Linked DNA regions of Homo sapiens. The protein of the gene in region 1 interacts with the protein of each later gene in a pairwise test. Each region holds a gene or a part of one and is shown on either strand. Other genes may lie near its edges. The genes, in order: DUSP21, POU4F3, MAP2K5 and CPNE7.

Region 1 (6,333 bases):
TGGGAAAAGGACTATGTCCCTTTTCACAAAGGCCGGTGGGAGATCACCAAAGACACCTTGAGAACTTGCCATCAAGTACAGCAGTCAAAAAAATACAATATTTTTAAACTTTATGGAGTGGAATGGTCTTTTAAAAAACTAGTTTTTTTTTTTTTAACTAATGTATAAATCCGATCTAGAAAACCAGAGATGGGCCACTGTGATTGAAGGTGGGCAAGGGTAGCCTGAGACTCCTCCAGAGCTCCTGGAGCACAGCTTGAATGAAAGCCACTTATCCACTAGGTTGGCACTTACTGGGAGAAGTGCAAGGGATGCCAAGATGTCTAAGGCTTTGACTTTGGGTTGGAAAGAACCGGGTGAGATTCTAGGGGATTCACTCCTGGGTTAGTCAGCCTCTGGCAGGGCTCAGGATTCCAGGTCTGCCACATGTATTGGGTGCTGCTGGCAGGTCTATGTGAGCTGAGCATTACTTGCCCCACCCTGGTTCCAGCCAGGCCCCAATAGCTTGACCTCACAATATAAAAAATATTTTCACTATCTTATGTTTCATGAATTTAATTCTATTAAGGTAAGGCTTACTACGTTCAAAACTCCAACCCCCTCCCTTTTTTCTTGCCCTTTAACAAGGCACCATCCGGTTTTCTTTACTAACAAAATGTCAGTGTTCAAGTTCAGTCTTGGTGCAAGATCGATGGCAGATGTCAGGGGCTGGCCGGGATGGCTTACATTGATATCATCATACGTAGGTCCTTCTCATAGATGTCAGGGATGTTACCTACCGGCGAGTTGATCATGCGCACGGTGTTGTTATTAAACAGCTTGAATTCGTAATTGATGAGCTGTTCCCAAAAGCCGTTGTTGGGCCGGATGATGGGGCGGCGCGACTTGGTCCATGTATGGGCGTCCAGCAGCGACATGGAGTGGTATTTCATGAGGTACGCAAGGCACAGTGAGGCGGAACGGCTCACTCCAGCCATGCAGTGCAGCAGCGTACGGCCCTGCCTCATATCGATGGTGTGGATAAGATCAGCAATGGGGTCAAAAAAGTCGTAGAGACGCGAGTCACGAGCATCGGTAACAGGCACCTTTATGTACTGAATGCCCTCGAAGAATACGTTGACCACTTCCACCGAGGCATTGACAATGGCGGTGATGCGATTGCTGGACAGAAGGAGTTTGTCGTTGGCGGCCACACCATTGCTGAGAAACAAGCTTCTGGTTATTTGGGAGAAGCTGTAGATGGAGGGCTGCTGGACACCCTGAGATGATGAAAAGGAGGACGCGGATGCTGTCATCAAGGCGGCTGGTCCGAGGTCTCTCTACGCTGGTTCGGGACACAACACTTACCAAGCTAGTTCAGGATAGCAGCCGCGCCGCCAAGTCTCAGGCTAGGTGTTGGAGAAAGAGGACCAGCTATCGGCCACCACCCTCTTTCTGTCTCCTCTCACCACTCCCATCTGGGCGTCACAATCCCGGACAGATAGCCCTGCGGCTCCGGTTTCCATGGCAATGGCCGCTTGCCGCAAGGAGGACAGGGCCTCTAAGCAGGGTCTTCAGAGACACCCCAGTCTCTTTTCTTTTTATCTTTCTTCATAGTCATTTATTTTCCAAGGCCTAATTCTTATCTTTCTTGACTTTTAAAAATGTTCTGTTACAAGATATCTATTTTATGTTTCAATTATTGGACCACGTTAAACAAGATCTATGAATACTTCTATTTCATCAGTGTTGCAGAACAGGGCTTACACTTTCCCTGCAAAATAGCAATATCACATTCTAAGTTGGGGAACAGCATTTGGCTCATGTGATATGCTAATCTCTATAAAACTGGAGCGAGATATGGGATTTGGCTGGGCTTGGTGGACTGGCCTGATACTTCTTTGTTGATTGTAACCATAAAATTATTTTCCTGCTTACAAACACATCAGGGCTGGTTGTAAGAGAGCATTGCTAACTGATATATAGCCCTTTATCTTGAAGTTGGCCTGTGGTGGACAGTTGTGACTAATTTAGCTGTGTCATAGTCCATTTGTACATACAGCTCAAATGACTTACCGCATGAGTCTATTTTATTACCTGAAACAACAGTTCAAATTATTTTGTTTACTTTCTTCAAAAAAAAATGCCTACATGCTTTGTGAACTACAAATCACTTTGACCACTACCGATGCTGTCTTCCCAGTAATATTAAACATTCTGAAACAAGTTAATGCTACATGGTAATTGGGCCAAAAATTGAGACAGTTTTGCTCTGTCACCCAGGCTGGAGAGTCCCAGGCCTCTGCTTCCTGGGTTCAAGTGATTCTTGTGCCTTAGCCTACCGAGTAGCTGGGATTACAGGAACGCACCACCACACCTGGCGAATTCTTGTATTTTTAGTAGAGACAGGATTTCACCATGTTGGCCAGGCTGGTCTCAAACTCCTGACCTCAGGTGATCCACCGGCCTCGGCCTCCCAAAGTGCTGGGATTACATGCACGAGCCACAGCACTCAGCCCAAAAATTAATTTCTAAAATGTAACCTGACATTTGCATTTCCTTCCAGCTAAGATTTTTATAGAATTTGGCTGAAAATTGAAAAGAACTATAGCCTAAAACTAACAAATTGTTTCACAGAGTAGCCAATTGACTCACATACTTTGCTCTCATTCCATCATCATTTTGGTATGTGTTCAAAGGTGTGCTGTGATTACGAACAAAGATGAAATAGATACCAGGCTGCTTATGATGGTCAAGGAAATGATAACCTCAAAACACAACACACGTTTCTTTTCTCAGTTGTCATAATCAAATTATTTTGCATTACTTAAATTGTCAGTCCCCACAAAGCTATCTGGAAGAAAATAGAACACGAATACTAAATAAATATGAAAACTGTTTGTTGGGGGCAGCTCAGCTGGGCTAACGGAGAAGCTTTGTAATCTATGTAGTAATGTGGAGGCCCTAAACTAGTATTGGAGTCTACTTATTTCATAAGTATACACTTCTTAAACTTTAAAACTAAGTACAATTAACAAAATAATTTCAGACACTATTTTCTTTTCTTTTTTTTATTTTTATTTTTTTTGAGACGGAGTTTTGCTCTTGTTGCCCAGGCTGGAGTGCAGTGGCGCGATCTTGGTTCACCACAACCTCCGCCTCCCAGGTTCAAGCCATTCTCCTGCCTCAGTCTCATGAGTAGCTGGGATTACAGGCTCGCGCCACCATGCCCAGCTAATTTTTTGTATTTTTAGTAGAGACGAGGTTTCACCATGTTGGCCAGGCTGGTCTCAAACTCTCGACCTCAGGTGACCCACCCACCTCGGCCTCCCAAAGTGCAGGGATAACAGGCATGAGCCACCGCGCCCGGCCTCAGACACTATTTTCAAAGACAAGCATGACCCGTGTTAAATAGATTCATTTATTTATTCTTCATATTCTGTGACACCTGTTAGTCTGAGGGATGTTGGATGTTTTAAAATTCCGCTATGGAGCTTTTCCTGGATAGATAACGTTTTCTCCCCTTGAGTTTGGAAGCAGGTCACTTTCAGATCCCACTTGTCTCTACTTTTCCTTTTTTTTTTTTTTTTTTTTAACACACTGATGGAGGCAATTTTCCTTGTTATTTAGTGAAGAAAATGTGCAATGGACTTGCCCAATAACACACTCTCTTTCCACCGCTGGGAAAACACCCTGGATGTTAAGAACTAGTTAATGTTCAAATTTCTCAATTCAGTAGTCAAAGCCCTTTCTAATCTAAGCCTGCCTTTCAAATCTCATTCATTCATTTATTCATCAGATTTTTATTAAGAATCTATAGTGTGTTAGGCATTTTCACCTATATAAACCCTCAGTTCTGACCAAACAAAGCAAACGCTTTTGGTAAATACAAAATGTACATTCCTGTTTCCTTACCTTTGCTCATGCCATTCCTCTCTCTTGAGAAGCCTGACTCCTCTCTGCTTCCTGAATTCTATCCGAGCTTCAAGACTCAGCTTGATTAATTTAAAAACGGGATCAACTGAGCATCCAATCTGTGTCAGGTATGGTCCTAGCAGTGTAGATCCATCACAATACAGGGCCTGATTTCCAAGAGCTTATACTTTGGTCAGAGAGATAGATAACCTTGGAAGAGTCCAGAAGAGAGGGTATGATTCATTGTTTTAGGTGAGTGTTTGGGGGCCAGGGGCAGTAGGTGTATGTCATGGAAGGCTTAATAGAAAACGTGACTGGGAAAAGTCTTTTTGTTTTTATTACTTATTATTTATAGTGTCCAAGTTTGTGTTTTGAAAAATATCAAACCTACATAAAAGCTGCAAGAACAGAACAATGAGCATCTGTTTACCCTTCACCTATAGTTCTATTGTTAACACTTCACCACATTTGCTTTATCTATTTTGATATACAGACACACATATTTATTTATTTGCTTGTTTCTTTTTGCTGAAACATTGAGAGTTTCTTGTAGATATAGCAACAATTTAGCCCTTCAGCACATATCTCCAAAGAACAAGTACATGCTCTTCCATAACCACAGTACAATGACCATACTCAGGAAATTTAACATTGGCCCCATATTATCATCTAACACGTAATCCATATTCAAATTTCACCAAGTCTTTTAATAATATTATTTATAGCTGTTTTTTTCTTTTGATCCAAGATTGAATCAAGGATCACACATTGCATTTAGCCGTCATGCTTCTTTAGCATCTTTAAATTTGGAGCTGTTGCTGAGTCTTTTATTTTGTTTCGGTCTTGCTGGACATTGGCATTTTTAAGAGTTCAGGCTAGTTTTGGCCGGGTGCGGTGGCTCACGCCTGTAATCCCAGCACTTTGGGAGGCCGAAGTGGGCAGAACACAAGGTCAGGAGATTGAGACCATCCTGGCTAACACGGTGAAACCCCGTCTCTACTAAAAATACAAAAAAATTAGCCGGGCGTGGTGGCGGGCGCTTATAGTCCCAGCTACTCGGGAGGCTGAGGCAGGAGAATGGTGTGAACCCAGGAGGCGGAGCTTGCAGTGAGCCGAGATTGCACCACTGCACTCCAGCCTGTGCGACTGAGCAAGGCTCCGTCTCCAAAAAAAAAAAAAAAAAAAAAAAAAAGAGTTCAGGCCAGTTTTGCAGAACATCTTTCAAGATGTATTTGTTTGACTGTTCCCTCGGGATTAGATTCAGGTGAAATTTTTTTTGCAAGAAGACCACCAGAGTGTGTGATTCTCAGTACATCGTACCAGGGGCATATGTTATTTGTCTGTTCCATTAATGGTGATGAGAATTTTTTTCTTTTCTCTTTCAATAGCTTTAGGAGTACTAGCGGTTTGGGGTTACATGGATGAATTGTATAATGGCAAAGTCTGAAATTTTAGTGCACCCATCACCTGAGTAGTGTACATTCTTCCCAATATGTAGTTTTTAAATCTCTCCCCACTCTCATCCTCGCCCATTATGAGTCTCCAATGTCCATTATACTAGTCTACATGCCTTTGTGTACCCATAGCTTAGCTCCGACTTATGAGAACATGCGACCAGGCATGGTGGCTCACGCCTGTAATCCCAGCATTTTGGGAGGCCAAGGCAGGTGGATCACCTGAGGTCAGGAGTTCGAGACCAGCTTGGCCAACATGGCGAAACCCCGTCTCTACTAAAAATACAAAACTTAGCTGGGCATGGTGGCGCACGCTTGTACTCCCAGCTACTTGGGAGACTGAGGTGGAGGATTGCTTGAACATGGGAGGATCGCTTGAACCCAGGAGGCGGAGGTTGCAGTGAGCCAAGATCGTGCCACTGCACTCCACCCTGGGCAAGAGAGTGAGACTCTGTCTCAGAAAAAAAAAAAAAAAAAAGTGAGAACATGTGATATTTGGTTTTCCATTCCTGAGTTACTTCACTTAGAATAATGTTCTCCAGTTCCATCCAAGTTGCTGCAAAAGACATTATTTTGTTCTTTTTTATAGCTGAGTAGTATTCCATGGTGTATATATATCACATTTTCTTTATCCACTTATCAGTTGATGAGCACTTAGTTTTGTTGCGTATCTTTGCATTTGTGAATTGTGCGGTAATAAATATATGCGTGTAGGTGTCTTTTTGATATAATGACTTCTTTTCCTTTGGGTAGATACCTAGTAGTGGGATTACTGGATCAAATGGTAGATCTACTTTTAGTTCTTTAAGGAATCTCCATACTGCTTTCTGTAAAGATTGTACTAATTTACATTCCCCTAGCAGTGTTACCTTTTTACCACATCCACGCCAACATCTATTGCTTTTTCAATTTTATTTATTTTATTTTATTCATTTATTTATTTTTGAGACGGAGTTTCGCTCTTGCCGCCCAGGCTGGAGTGCAG
Region 2 (7,333 bases), on another chromosome or scaffold:
AGAGGAGTGGGGAGAAGGGATGGCTGGGGGCTGGGCAGCAGAAACTGACAGCCCAACCCTTTGGGGTTCTCCTTTTTAAATCCTTTTCAAAGCTAGTACCCCTTAGCCTCTGAGAAAAAATAAAACCACTTTGATTCGGGTTGAAAAATAAAGCATTTATTTTAGAAGTTAATTCAAGGGGTAAAGGGAAAAGAAAACTTAATATTTTATTTGTATCTATTCAGAGAATGAAACCAAAGGTCACACAGCAACACACAAACTACATGAAACAACGAAAAAATAAAATAAAATTTGGGCTAGAGGGGCAGGGTGAGAAGGGTTCAGGCCCATGGTCCCACTCCTCTTCCCTCACAAAACTATAAGTGAACTTCCACCGAAAGACACCCACATAAAGGGAATGGAAAGAAGCAGAATTAAATAAATAATAGTAATGAACGATGTTAACAACAACAGTAATAACAAAAGTGCAAGGAGGTTAGACGTGTTGAAAGGACTTGCATATAATGCAGAGAAGTTACAGTCGTTTTCCAGCAGCCGACTGCACGCTGAGCTGGCAATCTGGCAAGAGCAGCGAGCTGGGGTCAGAGAGTCCTCAACGGTTATGAATACTACAAACTCCCGCTCTCCAGCAAGCAGTAATTACCCCTCAAACACCAGTAGGTAGTGAAAGATGGCCAGAGCTGGTGCTGGCAGCTGATTACAAACAGCCAAGCGATCCCAGAATTTTCAGTCGCCAGACTGGGCCCACCTGTTTTGGAGCCCTACTTACCACGAAAAAATGGCAACTTGGAGCCCGCAACTCCCTGCATACTTTCCCTGAACCTAATCTTCATGCTACCTTATGAGAATTTACGCCAAACCAAAGGATAAGGTGAATAGAATTTAGGCAAGGAAGGGAGTATAAGGCTATCCTTTGGAAACATACATGTATTTTATATACTCTAATAAATCTCCAGTGCATGTTTGTGTCCCCCTTAGATATCCTAGACTTTGTGTTATTATTGATCACTTCCTTTTTATCCCTTCACCCTTTGCCTAATCGCGCTTAGCAAAGTGGCATTTTCACCCTAGCTTCGGGCGGTTGGGCCAATTGACTGTCCTCTGCTTTGGGGCTCCTGCTCTGAAGTCGTGCGGCCCCTGCGCGAGGGCAAATTTCAGCACCACGGACAGCACAAGTACACTCAGGCCCGCCCTTCTGCAATATTTTCCCAGCGCCAAAATTTTTTTGGTGGGAATAGAAAGGAAAGAGAGAGAAGGCCGGAGGCAACCAGGCGGGACAAAGGGGGAAAGTCTGTGGCTTCGGAGGAGAGAGCCTAACCTGCCTAGGAAACGCCTTGGAGTTCCCGATAACCATCCCCCGAACCCGGGAGGGATGAGCACTAGGCTCTCCCGGCTCCCGACGCTGCGCCCTGCCGCAATCAGTGGACAGCCGAATACTTCATTCGTTTCTGTTTCTGTCTCTGGTTGCAGAACCAGACTCTCACCACGTTCTTTTTAAGGTCCAGTTTCTCAGCGATGGCCGCGATCTTCTCAGATGAAGGACGTGGCTGGATAGCGAAATAGGCCTCGAGTGAACGCTTCTCCGGCGCCGCGATGGACGTGCGTTTGCGCTTCCGTTCGCTGCCGTTGAAGAGCTCTGGCTTGCTGTTCTTCTCTCGGTAGGCGGCCTCGGCCTCCTCCAACCAGGCCTGGAGCACCGGCTTGAGAGCGATCATGTTGTTGTGCGAGAGAGTGAGAGACTCGAACCTGCAGATGGTGCTTTGGCTCAGCGAGCCCACGCCGGGGATCTTGAGATTAGCCAGAGCCGCGCCCACGTCCGCCTGGGTCACCCCCAGCTTGATGCGCCGCTGCTTGAAGCGCTCGGCGAAGGCTTCCAGCTCGCGCGGGTCTGACTCCACGTCGCTGAGGCATGCAGGCATGGCGCTATGAGGGGCCACGGTGTGCGGGTGACTCATGCCCATGGCCTGGTGCAGGTGGCCCATGGCGCCCAGGTGGTGTGGATGGATCTGTGCGGGCATCACCGAGTGTTCCGGAGCGCCCAGGCCGCTCACACTCAGCGTGGGCGAGATGTGCTCCAGCAGGTCGCCTTCGAGGCCCTGGTGCACGGCGTGGTGAGGGTGTGAGGTGAGCGCAGCTGGGTGGGAGATGGGCACGGTGGACGAAGTGGACGTGCAGGGCACGCTGCTCATGGTATGGTAGGTGGCGTCGGGCTTGAACGGATGGTTCTTGCCGTGGGAGACGATATCCACCGCCGCCAGAGCTTCGGCGCGTGCCAGCAGGCTCTCATCAAAGCTTCCAAATATATTACCCTGCAGCTGCAAGCGAGAAGGCGCACAGCACGGTCAGTAGGGAATACTGTCAACACAGGATTAAAACACATTTTCAAGCAACCGAGATGCCTCTCCTCAAAGCCCAGGTCATAAAAATTAATACGGAGGCAGCGGCTCTGCTGGAACAGACGTGTGGATCAGAGACATGAATGAGAGAGAGAGCGCGCCGGGAGAGAACGCGGGGGAGACAAGGAGAGGGGTTCAGACAGCGGCGATTGTTCTGGGCGACATGAAAAAAACATGAAGCTAGTGCCTGTCAAAAAATGTGCCTTAGAGCGGTAATTATGCTCCACTACGTACCTGCGGGGCTGGGAGACAGACTCGGCGCATGGCCTCGGAGCCAGAGTGCAGACTGGAGAATTTGGGTTCTTGCAGCACCGGGTGCATGCCGAAAGGCTGCTTGGAGTTCATGGCCATCATCTTCGCGCTCCTGGCAGGGTGGCAGCGGGTGACATGGAATCAGGCTTGTCTAGCTTGCTTGCCGCTCTCCAAGTGAGCGCTGCTCAGCGCCCGCGCTCCCCTCGCCCTCTCGCTCGCTGCCTCCCCTCTCCCCCACCTGCTTCTTCACTCATCTTACAAGCAGCCTGCCAGGAAGGGCCCGGGCGCGCGCAGGCGTGCTCACGCGCCGGGGACTCGCAGGGGCGGCCCGGGAGGTGAGGAGAGACAGCAGCTAGCGGCGCGCCTTTCTGCGCCCGCGGCGGCCGCCCCCTCCACAGCCTTTATACCCGGGCCTGGCCTGGCCTCTCCCAGTCCGCCCCGCCCCGCTGGCTCCAACCCGCCAGACCTTTCCGATTCTTTCTTCTTCGTGGACTTCCCTTCCCCCATGCCACCCCAAAAGTCCCAACCTCTCCGTCCTGTCCCAGCTCGAACTGCCTGGATAAAAGGGTAGCCCTGGGCTGAGCTGGGGCAGGAAGTTGACCCTACTCCAACTTCCCCTCTCCACCACACACACACACACACACACACACACACACACACACACACACTCCGTCGGCCCGGCTGCCGCCAAACTGCCCATTTCCAGGGCGCTCCTGGCCTCACGCCCAAGCTGTCCACCAGAGTCCGGTCCCGCGGCGCAGCGAGGAGGCGCCTCCAAGCGCCCAGACGGGCCCTGGAGAGGGTGAGGGGCTGCCAGAACGAGGCCCAGGTGACCCCTGCCCCACCTCCCTCAACCGCGCTCCGGGGTAGAGGTAGGGGCAGTAACTGCCTTCTCAGTCCGGGGTGGCTTCCTCCCCACGCTTGCCTTTCTTTCTTTCATTTGAGGGATGTAACTTGGCCCACTCTTCCTCCAACCCTCCCGTCTAAGGAAGCTTGTGGAGTATTTTTTTTAGAATAGCGACTGTTCAGGATGGCCCTCCAGGCCTGGGAGTCCTTCAGTGCATTTCTGCTGGGCAGCCAGAGCTTGCAAGCCCATTCCTCGTGACAACAGCTACCGTTTAAGAGTTCCTAATATGTGCTAGACAATTTAGAGTTTGCCCATGGGATTCTCATACCCACCGTATGGAGTAGGTGATGTTATCCCGTTTTACAGATGAGGAAAACAAGGATCAGAGGGGCTAATGATTAGCCCATTCACTCACTCACCCAGTTATCCATCCATCTTACAAATATTTACTGACGGCCTGCTGCTTCCCAGGCGCCTTAGCCTCTTGGTCTTCCTTCTCAAAGTTTCGGAACTTGAGGGCTCTCGAGGTTAGCACTGCCCGCCTCCACCTCCCCTAGCCTCTTTTTCTCTCTACTTCCCTCTTCTTTCCTCTCCCTTGCCCCGCTCTAGTAAACATCGTGAATAATGGATGGGGAATCCTGGACCTCGACTACGCTGCACTCCGGTTCGGAGAGAAACCCCGCGCGTGCAGCTGTACCCCCTCGTCAGGGCCACTGCCTCCGCTGAGAGAGCGATCTTCGGGGCTTAGAGACCTCACCCTGCCTGTTATTGTGCAGGGTATGTGCGTGCCGGGTTTCCCAGAATCTGAACGAGGTGGGGTGGTGTGGTTTAGGGGAACATCCCTTAGTCCAAGAGGACGCCCTGACAGATCCGGGCTCCCTCTTCCCCTCGGCGCCCTCCAGTTGCTTTTCTCCCCATCCGAGCCAGCCCCCTCCGCTGGTTCCCGCCCTGCGATGGTGGGAAAAAGACTCAGCCCAGGTGCCTAGAGCCAAGCGCAACCCTTTCGCTAAAGCCCTCTGAGCCTCGGTTTCGGCGGCTCTTAAATGGAATTGCACTACTGTCTGCCTCCTTGGATTCTGGTGAAGACGTTCAGAGTTAGGGTAAGAAGAAAAGCATTGAGCCACGAAATTGGTGCTCAGTAAACTCCCTCACAACCTGGTGCCATAGCGCTCAGGCCCTGGCCTCAGATTCAAAATGCGCCTCTGCCTCTTGCTGGCTGAGACCACGAGATATTCTCAACTTCTCTGTACTGCGGTGTCCCCATCTGTAAAATGGGGGTGATCATTTATTTCCCATTGATTGTTGTGAGGAATGCACTGGGATAAGCACATGGCACAGTGCCTGGCGCATTGATATCATTGAATACATGTTCCTCTCTTCTTCCTCAACTTAAAGAGAAAGCATGTGAGAGTGGGGGTGGGCCAAGTCATCCTCCTGGAACCCGGTTTGTCTGCACGTGCATACTGTGGATCCTTGCTCTCCATTCACCCAACATCTGCATTGTGCCAGACCCCATGCCAAAGGCTGGGACACAGATGTGAATCAGAATCCATCCTGGCACTCAAGGAGTCACCAGTCTAATATTCACTTCAGAAAGTTAACTCTAAACTTGCCAAGCAGTAGAAGGGAGGTAGATTCATGAACAAGACACAGAGCATAAGGGTGGCAGGATTCTAGAAGTGCAGAATACACATCAGAACTATGGGCTGCAGGAGGGCTGGATTTGGGGCTGCATTCTGACACGGAGTATGGGTGACCCTGACTGGACCTCAGTTTACCTACAAGGAGTGGGCTGTATAAGATGATTGCTAAGCTTTAACAAGACTTCCAGCTTTAACAAGACTATCATTCTGGTTAATTTGAATGAAACATACTTTGAGCATGTCAGGAATTTATCTCCAGAGACACTCAACTCCCCAGAGCTGAATGCAGTATTTTATCACTCACTAGGATTTAAGACCAGTCTTTGTTTTCTTCCCAATGCTGGAAGCCCAAAGGGAAAAGGGGAATGAAACACAGGGATACACTGGTCTGTATTTTGCCTGGTCCCATGATGCCCTGAGACCCATAATCATTCCATAATACCCTAGTTGTCTGTGAAGCTGAACCCCTAGAAACTGGGAGAGAAAGGATTCATATCCATTCTCTTTTTCTGCTCTGTCCTCTCAGGGGTCTGGGAGATACTGGCCAGCATAGAGGTCAGGCATGAGTCAGAAACAGAGCAAAACTAACTGGTCCTCACATGCCTCCAATGTTGACCTTCACCTTACCAGCCCCTACTCCAGCATCCCCAGGCATTAGGATCACACATCAAGAAACACACCTGTGTCTGGTCCCATGTGTTTTAGGGTTTTTCCCATCTTCCCCTCTAAGAAGGTCTACTGGCAGTTCTAGGCAGCCAGCGGTAAGACAACACCCATCCTTAAGGACCAGTCTTTTTGAGAAGGCCTTGGAGATAACAGACTGGAGACTGGAGAAGAAAAGAGGGAAAAGACCATAGAAAAAGCAATTGGAAGGACAGCCTTAGACGGCAATTTGTAACAGCCTCTATGCTTTCCAGAATTTGTAAACTTAAATTCTATAAGGTGCAAAACTAGTAAAATAAAATTGAGCAACTTTATCTGGGTGGATAAAAGGAAAGATTGAAACTGTGGTAAACTAGAGAGCACTTACCCACCCCCCCCCCCACCACCATGGCATTAAATTACAATCACACACACACACACACACACACACACACACACACACACTCATACCATTTATGGGCCAAACAAAATATGTGAAGGTCCATGTAAGGACTATGTGGGCATTTATGCAAGTGGCATTGAAGGAAGAATTTTCCCCATTCGATAAGCATTTCCAAATACCTACTAACAGCAGAGTCTTGTGGAAGGCCTTGAAGATACAGAAGACACTGCTTCAGGAGCTCAGAGTCTAGTAGGGACATAGATTTGCCACATGTAAGGTGAAGTCAGGGCACAAAGCACCATATCCTCCAGAAGGACTAGCCTTGTAGAGATGCAAAGGGGGTAGGGGCCTGGGGGCAGATGCATTTTCCTGTGTGCCAGCGGTTCTCAATTTTAGTATGTGTAGGAATCATCTGCAACCTCTTAAAATACAGCACCACAGGCCCACACCCAGAGATGCTGACCTCAAAAACTAACGTGCTTTTTAATAGACATCCATGATTTTGGATGCAGAGGATCTGGGACTCTGAACTTGAAAAACTTAGTCTATACCCTTGTCACTTGGATTATTATTATTATTATTATTATTATTATTATTATTTTAAAATCCTGCCCTAATTATGTAAGCTTCATGGAGACTCAAAGAGAGTTTTCCTTCTTTGAGCTTCCAATGTCTTTTGCATCTTCCCTTATTATCTCTTAGTAAGAACGTGGTGTTTTATGATCTCTGCTCCTTGAAGAACTGTCTGTGTTTCCAGTGCCCATGTCTACAGGCCAGGCAACATTAAGAGCTTGATGTAATTCATGTTGAATTAATGAACTCTGGCCAGGGGGGTGTCCATGATGATGGTGACAAGAAGGGCCATTTATGGAGTGGTTCCTATGTACAAGGCTCTGAGCTAGATGCTTTGGAAGTGTTGTACACTGAGTCTCCAAATCAAGCCTGTGAGGTTGATATCATTATCCCCATTTTACAGATGAAAAAAAGGAGGCATAGAAAGACTAAGTAAGTTGCCCAAGGCCACACAGTTAGGCAGTAGTAGCATGGGGAAGGGAGCCTTGGTTTATCTGATTCTGGAGCTCAGGTTAGTCCTAACTAACATCCTGGGCTGGCACTAGTTATCCCATCTCCCAAGCCCAGGGTCCGAGGG
Region 3 (7,628 bases), on another chromosome or scaffold:
CTTGCAAGTTAAACAACCTGGCTCCAGAGTTTGTGGTCTTAAACACTGGGCTATTCTTGAAATAATCACATAACCAAATAATATAATCACATAATAATCAACCTTCCATTGTTTTAAATGAGTAAGAGAAAACCCATCTTTCTCATCACAGTCACAATCTCACATAATCTTTCCAAGTCTTTGAGGAAGGTACAAGTTTCCCTGTTTTACAAATAAGGAAACTAAGGCTCAGAGAGGTAGACTGACTTGCCTAGTCAGTGGGACAGCTTGCAATTAAACCCAAATTCCTTGACTCTAAACCTAGTGTTCTGTCCACAGAACCATAATTGCATGCATCCTCTTTTAAGCTCCCTTCTTAAACAAGTATTTTGGGGTCCTATGAAGAAACAAAAACAAACATATCTATCTCCTCCAGAAGTTTACCATCTAGTGGAGGAGACAAAGAATCATGATCAAACATGTGCTTTGCTGGGGGACCCACACAAAGCTGTGACGACACAGAGGTGGGGCACATAACCAAGAATGACACAGAGAAAAAGCACAACTTGGCTTGGAAGGACAGGTGGGAATTGACCGGTGAAGAGCAGAGTGCAGACAGCCTGGACACCTGGGAGAAATGAAAATCAACCTATGTAAGTGAGGCACAGAAGTTTATGGGGCCGTGAAGAGAGATGACACAGGTGCCAGGCAGACAGGGGCCAATCCAGATGTGCCCAGAGGACCACATGAAGGAGCCTGGGCCTTATCATGAGGGGAAATCTGTATGTGCATGACTGTGTGGAGAACTCCGGATACAAAGAGAAGGATGGCATTTGATGCACAATATGGAAAGCTCCTGGTCAAGGCACCCAAAAATCTGCATGGCCTGGGCAGTCAGTAACATCTAGAACTCAAAATGAAGTTATAGAAATCAAATTTTGATTAAGTTACCCAAGACAATGAAAAATCACATCACAAATCTTCCTCTTCCCAAGATCCTGCCACCTTGCCCACTCTTAACTTGCAGGTAGTGATGTGCTTTTCGGAATGTCCGCTTCTGTCTTCCATGCCTCAGTTATTCTGCATGTAGAATGGGCACAAGGCACCCTGTCTATCTCAAATGAATACCAGAAAGATTAGAAGCGGCTGCAACATGTAGGGAAAGAAACCTACTAAGTCAATGAAACAAAATTTTAGTTCTGGTACTGACTCTCCCACTCAGGAGCTCACAGCTTTGGAAAAGCCATTTCACCTCACTGCTCCTCAGTAACTATCTGCAAAAAAGAAACATCAGCTGAACAGGCCACCTACAGTGTTACACTCTGCTCTAAAATTCCATCATTTTATTTGAAATATATTCTGAAAAATCTGAATGTAAAATATCACCAATTCTAAGATGCACATTTTCCCTTACTTTTACCGTCTCTGAAACTGGACTCATTTTAATAACGGATGATGTGTCATACTGTCATGGTTAGCATTTTTTTCTAAGTAAAATGTCTTACATTCAATGATGCTTTAAGTTTGCTCAGGCTGGGCACAGTAACTCACACCTGTAATCTCAGCACTTTGGGAAGGCCGAGGCAAGCAAATCGCAGGAGTTCAAGACCAGCCTGGGCAACATGGCAATACCTCGTCTCTACAAGATACAAAAATTATCCAGGTGTGATGGCATGTGCCAGCTACTTGGGAGGCTGAGGTAGGAGAATCGCTTGAGCCCAGGAGGCAGAGGCTGCAGTGAGCCGAGATCGTGCCACAGCACTGCAGCCTGAGCGACAGAGTGAGGCCCTGTCTCAAAATAAATTAATGAAACAGTGTGCTCAAACATGGTAAGTTAAAGTTGTCCTTTTTCCCTTTCTCAGCTGGTCACCAAGTTCAGAGAACTCAGTAGAAAAACAAGGCTGGAATCTGTCCAAGGACATTCCCCGAAACACTTGGGGGGAAAAAACCTCTCTTCTAGATTCAGCAGTTTGCATTTGCGTGGTTGTGTCTATATGTGTGTCCCAGCCCGGGCCATGAGCTCTCTGAGGGCAGGGGTTCAGTCAGATTGATCTATCTCCCCAGGGTCCTAGACATTTGCCAGGTTTTAGTGGTTGCAATTTATCAATGCTGTGCCTGAAGCAATAAAACTGCCTCCACAGGAAGCCAGCAGTAGCCATTGCCACTGGCTCAGGTCACCAGTGGTCAAGGTGCTGACTACTCAAGTCCCTGAGTCCCCCTTGCTGGCATCCGGACACTGAGATTACCACTCACCAGCACATCCCTGAAGAGTAACTGCGGCCCGGAGTGCACTGTCCAGTCCACCGCGCCACTATTTGGGATCTTGATGCGAATTACCAGCACCTGGTTCTCCATGGCAGGAAAGGGGCCAAGGGCTAGCCACAGCATTACAGGTTAAAGAGGCTCACATCCTGGGGTATGGGAAACCCACTGGCCGCTGGTTAGGAGGGGGCTCCAAGAGGTGACAAGGGGAGTGACGGGCAGAGGACAGAGGGTGAAAACAAGGGAATGGAGGATGAGGGGGAGGGAAGAGGGGAGGGGTGATCAGGAACGCACCCGCAGGCACCGAGCCTGCCCAGGCTGTCGGGGGTCTGAGGTGTCTCCCGGGGAGGGTGCACCGGGAAGCGGGCAAAGGCCCGCAGGAACTAGCGGAGGTCGGAAGGTTCTGGAGTTGAGCGAACGCTATGGTGAAGGTCTCTGCCGCCGTGTGGGTATGAGGAGGCAGCAGGGCAAGGACTCGGTTTGGGGGAGATACAGCGGCAGGTGTCCACCGCTCGTCAGTGGACTAGGAGAGGGTCCTCGACTGGAGGGGACTCAGTCCGGGGCTATTAAGAAAGAGCCCCAGGGCCGCCACACCACGGAGAGTCCCCGCGGGAGGTTCAAGGGGCGAGTCTTCTGCCCCACCCGGAGACACAGGGCGCGGCGCGCGCAGGCTGAGCTCCGGCCACCCGAGGCCGCGCGGACTGGCGGCGGCTGCGGCGGCGGCGACGGCGGTAGCGGCGAGAGGAGGAGGAGGAAGGCGGCGGCGACACTGTTACTCCGGAACCAAAACGCGCGGCGCCGGAACCCCGGGAGCCGACGAGCGGGACCCGCCTCCCGCGGCGCCATGTTGGAAAAGGGCAGCAGCTCCCGGGAGGATGCGCCCCCGGCGTGGGAAGCCGAGGAACCGGCGCGCGGCGCGCGGCGCGTGGCGCGTGGCGAGTCGGGGAGAGACTGGTCTTGCTCGCTCAGGAGACCCTCATCGCCCACAGAGCGCCCGCGGCGACCCGGTCACGGCCCTTCCATTTCCTGACCCTGCTTAATGACAGCGAGGTGAAAACATCTACCAAACGAAGGGTAAAAGGCTGGAGTCCGCCAAAAGCCAATTTAAGGCTTAACATTGCAGACCGTTTGTCTTTACAAAAGCTTCAAAGACGGGGCTGCAGCTCCCGGTTATCCCCACTTTGTCAAGCCATGAATCTGAATGTTCGTGGGGTTGTGTGCATCGAATCAGCAAGAGCAAGGCAAGAATTCAAGAAATAGTTCTTTTTTATCCCCCCTTCCAAGTCACAGGTTCAGAGGATCATCATCTTTCTCCCACATTAGCAAAACATATTTGCATTTTTCAGTGAAGTTCTTTACCGCACGAGTGCCCTAAAATAGCAAACAGTTCCCTGTTCAAAAGCAATAGTAAAGAAATTCGCCGAAGAGTTTAATTGCCTGGGGACAGCTGCAGTAGTCGCATCATCGTCTCTTATTAAACTGTTGCAGAAATATTCGGTCTAGTCCATGTATTTTCAACTAAATAGCACTGCTTACGCAGTTGGTGATATGGTGATATCACGGAAGTAGCAATAAACCTTGGTTATCTTTTTTTTTTTTTTTTTTGAGACGGAGTCTCGCTCCGTCGCCCAGGCTGGAGTGCAACGGCGCGACCTCTACTCACCACAACCTCAGCCTCCCGGATTCAAGCGATTCTCCTGCCTCAGCACTACCACCCCCACCAGCCCCCAACCCCTGCCGAGTAACTGGGACTACAGGCGTGCGCCATCCGTGCCCGCTCATTTTTGTATTTTCAGTAGAGACTGGGTTTCACTATGTTGGCCAGGCTGGTCTCAAACTCCTGACCTCGTGATCCGCCCACCTCAGCCTCCCAAAGTGCTGGGGGGATTACAGGTGTGAGCCACCGCGCCCGGCCAACCTTGGTTATCTTCAAATGCCTTGTTACCTCAGATTTTAAAGTGCATAAGGTTGTAGAACGATGGTGCCTCTACAGAAGTTTCTTTACAAATTGTAATGTGTAGGTTCGTCCTTTATTTCTTTCTTATGAAGGTGCACGAATTGGCTTTACTTTCTGGGGTTGAATTTTGTATAAACTCGGTTGAGGAGGCTTGTCAGTTTCCCTTCTAACAGTAAGGTGCTTGATTAATGTGAGAGAAAAAAATTAATGTTGGTCATTTTCAGTTACAATACCAAAATTTTTTCTGCATACTTTACTCTGAGTTACTTTTATATTTAATTTGAAAGGCCATTGTAGGAGATAAATTATCACATTTTAAGTTACTGTAAATCAATAGCTTAGGTAGAAATTCATTTAGTCAGATCCTTCAGATATTCTAGGAATTTCCCCTTTTCACCTGCACTTCACTTCTGTGAAAAATAAACCGTTCATCAAAAGTCCTCATGTACTTTTATTAAAAGTTCATTTCCTATTATTTTAGAAAATAGACCACGAAACTAGAGATTTTCTATGAACCTGTGATTTGTTAAAATGTCTCTTTTATTCGAAGTACCGTGGGGAAAACCAACTCAATTTGCCAAATTTGCATACATATTCTGAAGCTTTTCTTACACTAATGGCAAACTCATATTTCTGTTCCAATATTTGCAGAGCCAATATAATTACACGTCAGCTCTTCATAGCCTTTATGTAGTAAGAAATCTTAACTTTGATGATTTGAGCAAGGATTTTTCCAGAAAGTTATAACTCTCATTGCGAGAAGCATCATAATCACTGATAATACATTCCACTTGATATCATAAATGACAAAATATAACTTTCTGATCTTTACCAAATTGAATACTGTCTAAATTTAAGGAATATTTAGTATTTAACATCGAAGTTGCATGTGATCTTAAGAAGTTTGCATTTAGTACTTTTTTTCATTTTATTTTATTTTATTTATTTATTTTGAGACGGAGTCTTACTCTGTCACCCAGACTGTAGTGCACTGGCGCAGTCTCGGCTCATTGCAACCTCCACCTCCCAGGTTCAAGCGATTCTCCTGCCTCAGCCTCCCAAGTAACTAGGACTATAGGTATGTGCCACCACGCCCAGCTAATTGTTGTACTTTTAGTAGAGACGAGGTTTCACCATGTTGGCCAGGCTGGTCTGGAACTCCTGACCTCAAGTGATCCACCCGTCTCGGCCTCCCAAAGTGCTAGGAATACAGGCGTGAGACAGCGCGCCAGGCCTTTTTTCTTGTTAAATGATACAAGTCAGAATAGTCACTCAGGTACTGGCTGAGATAGTTTACTAGCCATTAAGCAAACTTACTGTAAAAAAAAAACTGTGCTTACTTGTAGTGTTCCTACTTGAGGGATTTACTTTTCACTAAGTGTAATAGAAAATCCCTCCCCTCATGAAGTTATATTCTGATGGGGAACACAGACAAATGAGTAAAATATATGTTAGATAGTAGTAAATGCTAACAGAAAAATGAAATCAGAAGGGAAAATGGTAAAACAGTAAGTGCACCAGTGTGATAACACTAAGGAATATGAAAACTGGCCTATATTGGCTTCAGTTAACTGGCAAATTTAACTGAAAATAGACACATTACTGAAAAGTTAGATGTCTAGTGATTTTTTTCCTTGTGATAAAATACACATAAAATTTACCATTGTACTCATTTTGAAGTGTGCAGATCAGTAGTGTTACATACATTCATTCATCCTGTTGTACAGCCAATCTCCAGATTTTCATCTTGCAAAACTGAAACTCTATATTCATTAAACAACTGCCCACTTCCCCTTCCCTCCAGCCCCTGGCAACCACCAATCAACTTTCTATTTCTATGAATTTGACTACTCTAGATACCTCATATAAATAGAATCATCCAGTATCTGCCTTTTTGTGACTGGCTTATTTCACTTGGTATAATGCCTTCAGGGTCCATCATGTTGTAACATGTGTCAGCATTTCCTTACTTTTTTTTTTTTTTTTAAGATGTACTCTTGCTGTGTCATCAACACTGGAGTGTAGTGGCATGATCTAGGCTCCACCTCCTGGGTTCAAGCAATTCTCCCACTTCAGCCTCCCAAGTAGCTGGGATTACAGGTGCCCACCACCACACAAGGCTAATTTTTGTATTTTTAGTAGAGACAGGGTTTCACCATGTTGGCCAGATTGGTCTCGAACTCCTGACCTCAGGTGATCCACCCACCTTGGCCTCCCAAAGTGCTGGGGTTACAGGCATGAGCCACCACCCCTGGCCATTTCCTTCCTTTTCAAAGCTGAACAAAATTCTGTTGTGTGTATATAACACATTGTGTGTATCCATTCATCTATCAATGAACATTTAAGTTGTTTCCACCTTTTGGCTATTGTGAATAATGCTGATATGAACATGGGGGTACAAATATCTGTTCCTGTCTCTCCTTTCGACTTTTTGGGATGTATACTCAAAAGTGGAATTGCTGGATCATATTTTCTATGTTTAATTTTTTGAGGAATCACCATACTGTTTTCCAGAGTGGCTGTACCATTTTACATTCTCACCAAAAGTGCATAAGAGTTCCAATTTCTCCATGTTTTCACCACCACTGGTTATTTTCTATATTTGTTTATAGTAGCTATCCTGTTGGGTATAATGTGATATCTTACTGTAGTTTTAATTTGTATTTCTCTAATGATTAGTGATGTTGAACATCTTTACCTATTCTTGTTGCTCATTTGTATATCTTCTTTGGAGAAATACCTATTGAAGTTTTTTGCCCATTTTGTGTATTTATTTATTTATTTTTGAGACAGAGTCTTGCTCTATCTCCCAAACTGGAGTACAGAGGCACAATCTCAGCTCACTGCAACGTCCGCCTCCCAGGTTCAAGGGATTCTCCTCCCTCAGCCTCTCGAGTAGCTGGGACTACAGACGTGCACTACCACACCCAGCTAATTTTTGTATTTTTAGTAAAGATGGGGTTTCACCATGTTGGCCAAGCTGGTCTCGAACTCCTGACCTCAGGCGATCTGCCCACCTCGGCCTCCCAAAGTGCTGGGATTACAGGCATAAGCCACCGCACCTGGCTTTTTTTTTTTTTTTTTTTGCCCATTTTAATAGGGTTATTTTGTTGTTGTGATTTATTTTTTTAAGGAGAAAAATTACATTTTGCTGTTATAAATTCAGAGAGGTTTTCTTTCATCTCTTATTACCCTGATCCCAGTATCGAATCCTTAATCCAGAATCTGAGCCTTTCTCACCACCTTCACTGCTACTACCCCAGTCCAAACTATTCTTTCATCTTCTGTTTTCGCCCTTGCCCCTACTACCAACAGTATTATCTACCCAGTTGCCACAGTTAGATCAAGTCACTTGTTTGACTAAAACTCTCCAAACAGCTTCTTATCTTGTGCAGGAAAAAGGCCAAAATCCTTTTCTTGGCCTACAAAA
Region 4 (5,031 bases), on another chromosome or scaffold:
TGATAAAATATGCACAGTTTAAAATTTACCATTGTAACCATTTTTTTCTTTTCTTTTTTTTTTTTTTTTTTTGAGATGGAGTTTTACTCTTGTCACCCAGGCTGGAGTGCAGTGACGTGATCTCGGCTCACTGCAAGCTCCGCCTCCCGGGTTCACGCCATTCTCCTGACTCAGCCTCCTGAGTAGCTGGGAGTACAGGCGCCCGCCACCATACCCGGCTAATTTTTATATTTTTGTAGAGATGGGGTTTCACTGTCTTGGCCAGGCTGGTCTCAAACTCCTGACCTCAAGTGATCTGCCTGCCTCAGCCTCCCAAAGTGCTGGGATGGGATTACAGGTGTGAGCCGCCGCACCTGGCCTGTAACCATTTTATTGTATCCAGTTCAGAGGCACGAGGTACATTCATGATGATCAAACATCACCCGTCTACTTACATCTTCAAGCCAAATGGGAACCCTATATCTGTTTGCATCTATTTTTAATTTATACAGATAGTATCGTGATAAAGACTTTGATGCTTTTTAAAAAACTTGGCACTGCACACACACATTTGTGAACCGTCCGAGAGCACGTTGCAACATCACGGTTTTACCTCTTAATATTTTTTTTTTTTTGAGATGGAGTCTCGCTCTTCACCCAGGCTGGAGTGCAGTGGCGCGATCTTGGTTCACTGCAAGCTCCGCCTCCCGGGTTCACGCCATTCTCCTGCCTCAGCCTCCCAAATAGCTGGGACTACAGGCGCCCGCCACCACGCCCGGCTAATTTTTTGTATTTTTAGTAGAGACGGGGTTTCACTGTGTTAGCCAGGATGGTCTCGATCTCCTGACCTCGTGATCCGCCCACCTCGGCCTCCCAAAGTGCTGGGATTACAGGCGTGAGCCACCGCGCCCGGCCTACCTCTTACTATTTCAGTGTATATTTCCTAAGATCAAAGATATTCTCTTGTATAACCATAGCACAAATACAGATTTCAGGAAATTGAATTTAGATACAATCCTTTTATCTAATACATAGACTATATTCCAATTTCATTCATTGGCACAATCATAACTTTCAAAGCAGTATTGTTCCTGGCCCAGGAGCCAGTCCGGAGTCGAGGATTGCGTTCAGCTGTTATGTTCCTGTGTGGCTGGGAAGCGGGTCTCAGACGGTTTCATCTGTAAATGTCAGTATCAGCGTCTAATAAAGATAAGCCTCTTTTTAAGCAGCCACGACACCTGATCACACCTAACCACCACTCCTGGCATTGCACATCCGTCTGGTGTTTGTGTTTCCTGTTGTCTTACCCGTGACATGGTTTTCTGTGGTTAGAATTGGGTTGAAACGAGGACTCAGACATGATCAGCTGAGCCCTCGGTCCCTCTCCTGGACACGAAGCTCCCGCCCTAGTGGGGCCCCACGGTGGGTTTTGGTGCCTGGTGCTCGCACAGTTGGCAGAGGGGGGTGGGGGCCTCATCTGGGGTTGGGAGGGGGTGGGGGGCTTTCTGAGGCTGGGCTGTTTATCTGGAGGCCGAGAGCCAGGCTGGGCACAGCCGTGGGTGCTTGTAGGCCTGGACCAGAGACTGCCTTGCAAACAGGTAATTCTTCCCACAGGTGTGGGGCTCAGAGAGGGGGAGATGGGGAGGGCACAAAAAGAGAGCCTCTTGGAGAAGGCGACTCTGAGTGGGGTCCTGGGGCCCCTGTTCGTTTCCAGGACACATCTGCCCTCAGTGGGACGGGCTCAGTCAAGGCCAGCCCAGGGGAGGCTGCTGTGGGCTCCCGCTCTGCTGCTCAGGCGAGCCCTGCTTCTCTTTATGTTTCCCGTTGTCCACAGTTTGGGCAAGATTATTGAGTGGGGTTTTTTTTAAACAATGGAAGTTGATTTTATTTGAAGTTCCATTCTGCCTTTTTTTTTTTTTTTTTTTTTTTTTTTTTGGAGACAGTCTCACTCTATCGCCAGGCTGAAGTGCAATGGCGCGATCTCAGCTCACTGCACCCTCTGCCTCCCAAGTTCAAGCGATTCTCATGCCTCAGCCTCCCGAATAGCTGGGATTACAGGCGCCCACCACCACGCCCAGCTAGTTTTTGTATTTTTAGTAGAGATGGGGTTTCACCATTTTGGCCAGGCTGGTCTCGAACTCCTGACCTCAGGTGATCCGCCCGCCTCGGCCTCCCAAAGTGCTGAGATTACAGGCGTGAACCACCGCGTCCGGCCAACACTCAGTCTTGTGGCAGCACAGCGGGCACCCTGGAGAGACTGGAGCAGGGTGTGTGGGCTGCAGGTCTGGCTCCTGGGATCGCAGATTTCTCCTCTGGCCTCAGACCTCCCATCCAGGCACTGTGAGCTCATCAGTAAAATGTAGACTTCGTAGCACCCCCTCCACAGCCCTCCGTGAGACTCGTGGAGATTTCCTGAGCTGGGCACAGGAGGCCCAGAGTGCCCGCCACGGAGGGGGCTCCTGACCCACTGTTGTTCGTGATGTTTGTGATGTAGGCATCACACTCTGAAGGCGGTTCTAGGAAGCTCTGACGCACGGAGGCACTCTGGGCTGTCTGGGGGCCCGTGGGTTGCAGGGCGCATGTGGGCCATGGCAGGTGTGGTGTTGCTGATGCCTTTCCTGTGCCCCCAGCAATACTACATCCTGCTGATCCTGACGGACGGCGTGGTGACCGACATGGCCGACACACGGGAGGCCATTGTGCGTGCCTCACGCCTGCCCATGTCCATCATCATCGTGGGCGTGGGCAACGCCGACTTCACCGACATGCAGGTCCTGGACGGCGACGACGGCGTCCTGCGCTCCCCACGGGGTGAGCCCGCGCTCCGGGACATCGTACAGTTCGTGCCCTTCCGGGAGCTCAAGAACGTGAGTGTCCTGGAGGGGCTCCGTCAAGGCCGGCTTGGGGGTCCCTGTTCATGTCACTGCCCAAGACCTTCCCAGGCCAGGCTCACGCCAGTGGATGTGGCAGGTCCCTTCTTGTGTCTGGGGGATCCTGGGCTGTTCCCCCCAGTCAAGAGCAGTATCTGAAGCCAGGACTTTGAGCACCTGAAACACCCTCCACCGTTTTGAAACTTGTCGAATCTACACAAAAGCAGAGAACAGCACAAGGGGCTCCTGGGATCCACCACGCGGCTTCCCCCGTTGCTGCCAACCTCTGCGACCCGGCGAGACACGCACAGCACACACGTGAGGTTCTACCCGCCGAGACACACACAGCACACACGTGAGGTTCTACCCGGTGAGACGCACAGCACACACGTGAGGTTCTACCAGGCAAGACACACATGTCACACATGAGGCCCTACAGCAAGACGTGCATGCCACATAGATGTGAAGTTCTACACAGCAAGACACCACAGACATGCATGAAGACACGGACACGTGACATTCTACGCAGTGAAACATGCATATTACAGACACATGAAGCTCTGCAGTGAGTCACATCACACAGACACGCTCAGGCTTTGCCGGGGAAGTGTGGGTGGGGCCTGGACCATGGAGGTGGCCTCGCCTCCCGTGTCAGCACTTTTCATCTCCGTGCTTGGGGGGCTGGAAAGACCCACGTGCAGCCTCATGTGGCCGACATCCTCAGCAAGTCTTGCCCGGCACCCAGGTGAGCCTCTGGTGGGGGTGGGTAGTCACCACTCGGCTCTGGAGGATGAGGCCTGGGCCATAATCCAGTTGCAGGGACGGATGATCTCCATCTCGAAGGTCCCAGAGGTAACTGCGTTGTCCCATCCTCCAGGCATCCCCTGCGGCGCTGGCCAAGTGCGTGCTGGCCGAGGTCCCGAAGCAGGTGGTGGAGTACTACAGCCACAGAGGCCTGCCCCCGAGAAGCCTGGGTGTCCCTGCCGGAGAGGCCAGCCCAGGCTGCACACCGTGAAGATGTGGAGGGCGTAGGGTGGGGGCAGTGAGGAATGGGTCCGTACAGCCTCTGTCTGCAACATGCTTGGGGTCCCTTAAGCTCCCTCCGACCTCCCAGAAGCCTCCAGTCCCCACCAGGCCCCACTCCCAGTCCTCCTGGGATCCTGCTGGCTTGGGCCCGGCTCTGGGGCCCCCAAGGCCGAAGGGTGACAAAATACAGGCCCCCATGCCTGGCCCTGCCTGAGCCAGGTGGGTGGAGGGAGGGAGATCATGAGGGACTTGGAGGGAGCTGGGAGTTCATCCACGGGAGACCCTGCCCCGATGAGAAGGGGCAGGGACTGGGGGCTCTGCTTTGCGTCTAACCTTTGTGGGGGAGGGCCAGCAAGGCAGTCCCCCCACGCCCGAGAAAGCCTGGGGGACCCAGACACCTGTCCCCACAGTCAAAGCCTGGGGACCCAGACATCCTGTCCCCACAGTCAGCCTCCTGTCCCTGCTGGTGCCCCCACACCCACCTACCCTGTGCTTTTTGCCGTCGGGCCTCTGCACCTGGGTCCATGGGGTCTGCGGGGTCTGCGGGGTCTGCCTGGCCTGTGGGTTCTGCCGGTGGGGCTTCAGGAGTAATAAAGTGTCACCCTATCCTTGTAGTTCTCTTGTGCCTTCAGTCCCTTCCCCAACCCCCCAGAGGGCTGGGCCTGGCTTCCAAAGTGCCCACATCTGAGGCAGGGGCTCTCCCAGGCCCAGCACACCAGGATCCTCCCTGGACTGAATGGGATGCGGGATGCACAGGCTGCCAGGGGCAGAGAGCGGGGATCCGCACCATGGCTGCCTCCACCCGCGAAGGAGCTCCACTCGGCTTCCTGGGACTCCCAGGCCTGAAACCCAGTGAGTGAGGACTGTGGACGTGATGCAGGGGTGCCAGGAGCCTCCCACATGGCCTGCACCGCAGGGAGCTGGGCTGGAGGGTGAAGCCTCCATGTGATGTTCGTGGAGCCGGGGCATCTCCCACCTGCTGGGACCTCCTCGCCCTGAGTTTGAGATTTCCCCTGAATGATCTTGCCTGAGAAAAACAAATTGTCCTAACCCTGAATCCAGGCCCACCCATCCCCACATCGGTCCATCCACCCACCCATCCGTCCACCCATCGCCCTGCCCACCCATCCGTCCACCCATCCCCCCGCCCACCCAT

What was found.
Region 2: the proteins of DUSP21 (region 1) and POU4F3 interact in binary tests that used the Homo sapiens proteins (3 or more experiments, as listed by UniProt).
Region 3: the proteins of DUSP21 (region 1) and MAP2K5 interact in binary tests that used the Homo sapiens proteins (3 or more experiments, as listed by UniProt).
Region 4: the proteins of DUSP21 (region 1) and CPNE7 interact in binary tests that used the Homo sapiens proteins (3 or more experiments, as listed by UniProt).

Annotation. Positions count from the first base shown.
Region 1 is NC_000023.11:44,839,095-44,845,427, reverse strand, and holds DUSP21 (dual specificity protein phosphatase 21), read right to left. Parts: upstream 1,408-6,333; 5' UTR 1,296-1,407; coding exon 723-1,295; 3' UTR 540-722; downstream 1-539. UniProt on the Homo sapiens protein: Protein phosphatase component of the sperm flagellar doublet microtubules. May act as a regulator of sperm motility by mediating dephosphorylation of sperm doublet microtubule proteins.
Region 2 is NC_000005.10:146,334,530-146,341,862, reverse strand, and holds POU4F3 (POU domain, class 4, transcription factor 3), read right to left. Parts: upstream 3,025-7,333; 5' UTR 2,761-3,024; coding exon of another isoform or gene 2,751-2,760; coding exon 2,631-2,750; intron 2,316-2,630; coding exon 1,419-2,315; 3' UTR 135-1,418; downstream 1-134. Other genes in the region: RBM27-POU4F3, read right to left, coding at 2,305-2,315, 2,631-2,760. UniProt on the Homo sapiens protein: Acts as a transcriptional activator. Acts by binding to sequences related to the consensus octamer motif 5'-ATGCAAAT-3' in the regulatory regions of its target genes.
Region 3 is NC_000015.10:67,538,075-67,545,702, reverse strand, and holds the start of MAP2K5 (dual specificity mitogen-activated protein kinase kinase 5), read right to left. Parts: upstream 3,001-7,628; 5' UTR 2,368-3,000; coding exon 2,233-2,367; intron 1-2,232. UniProt on the Homo sapiens protein: Acts as a scaffold for the formation of a ternary MAP3K2/MAP3K3-MAP3K5-MAPK7 signaling complex.
Region 4 is NC_000016.10:89,592,758-89,597,788, forward strand, and holds the end of CPNE7 (copine-7), read left to right. Parts: exon of another isoform or gene 1-1,207; intron 1,208-2,609; coding exon 2,610-2,846; intron 2,847-3,073; coding exon of another isoform or gene 3,074-3,167; intron 3,168-3,726; coding exon 3,727-3,864; coding exon of another isoform or gene 3,865-3,881; 3' UTR 3,882-4,489; downstream 4,490-5,031. UniProt on the Homo sapiens protein: Calcium-dependent phospholipid-binding protein that may play a role in calcium-mediated intracellular processes.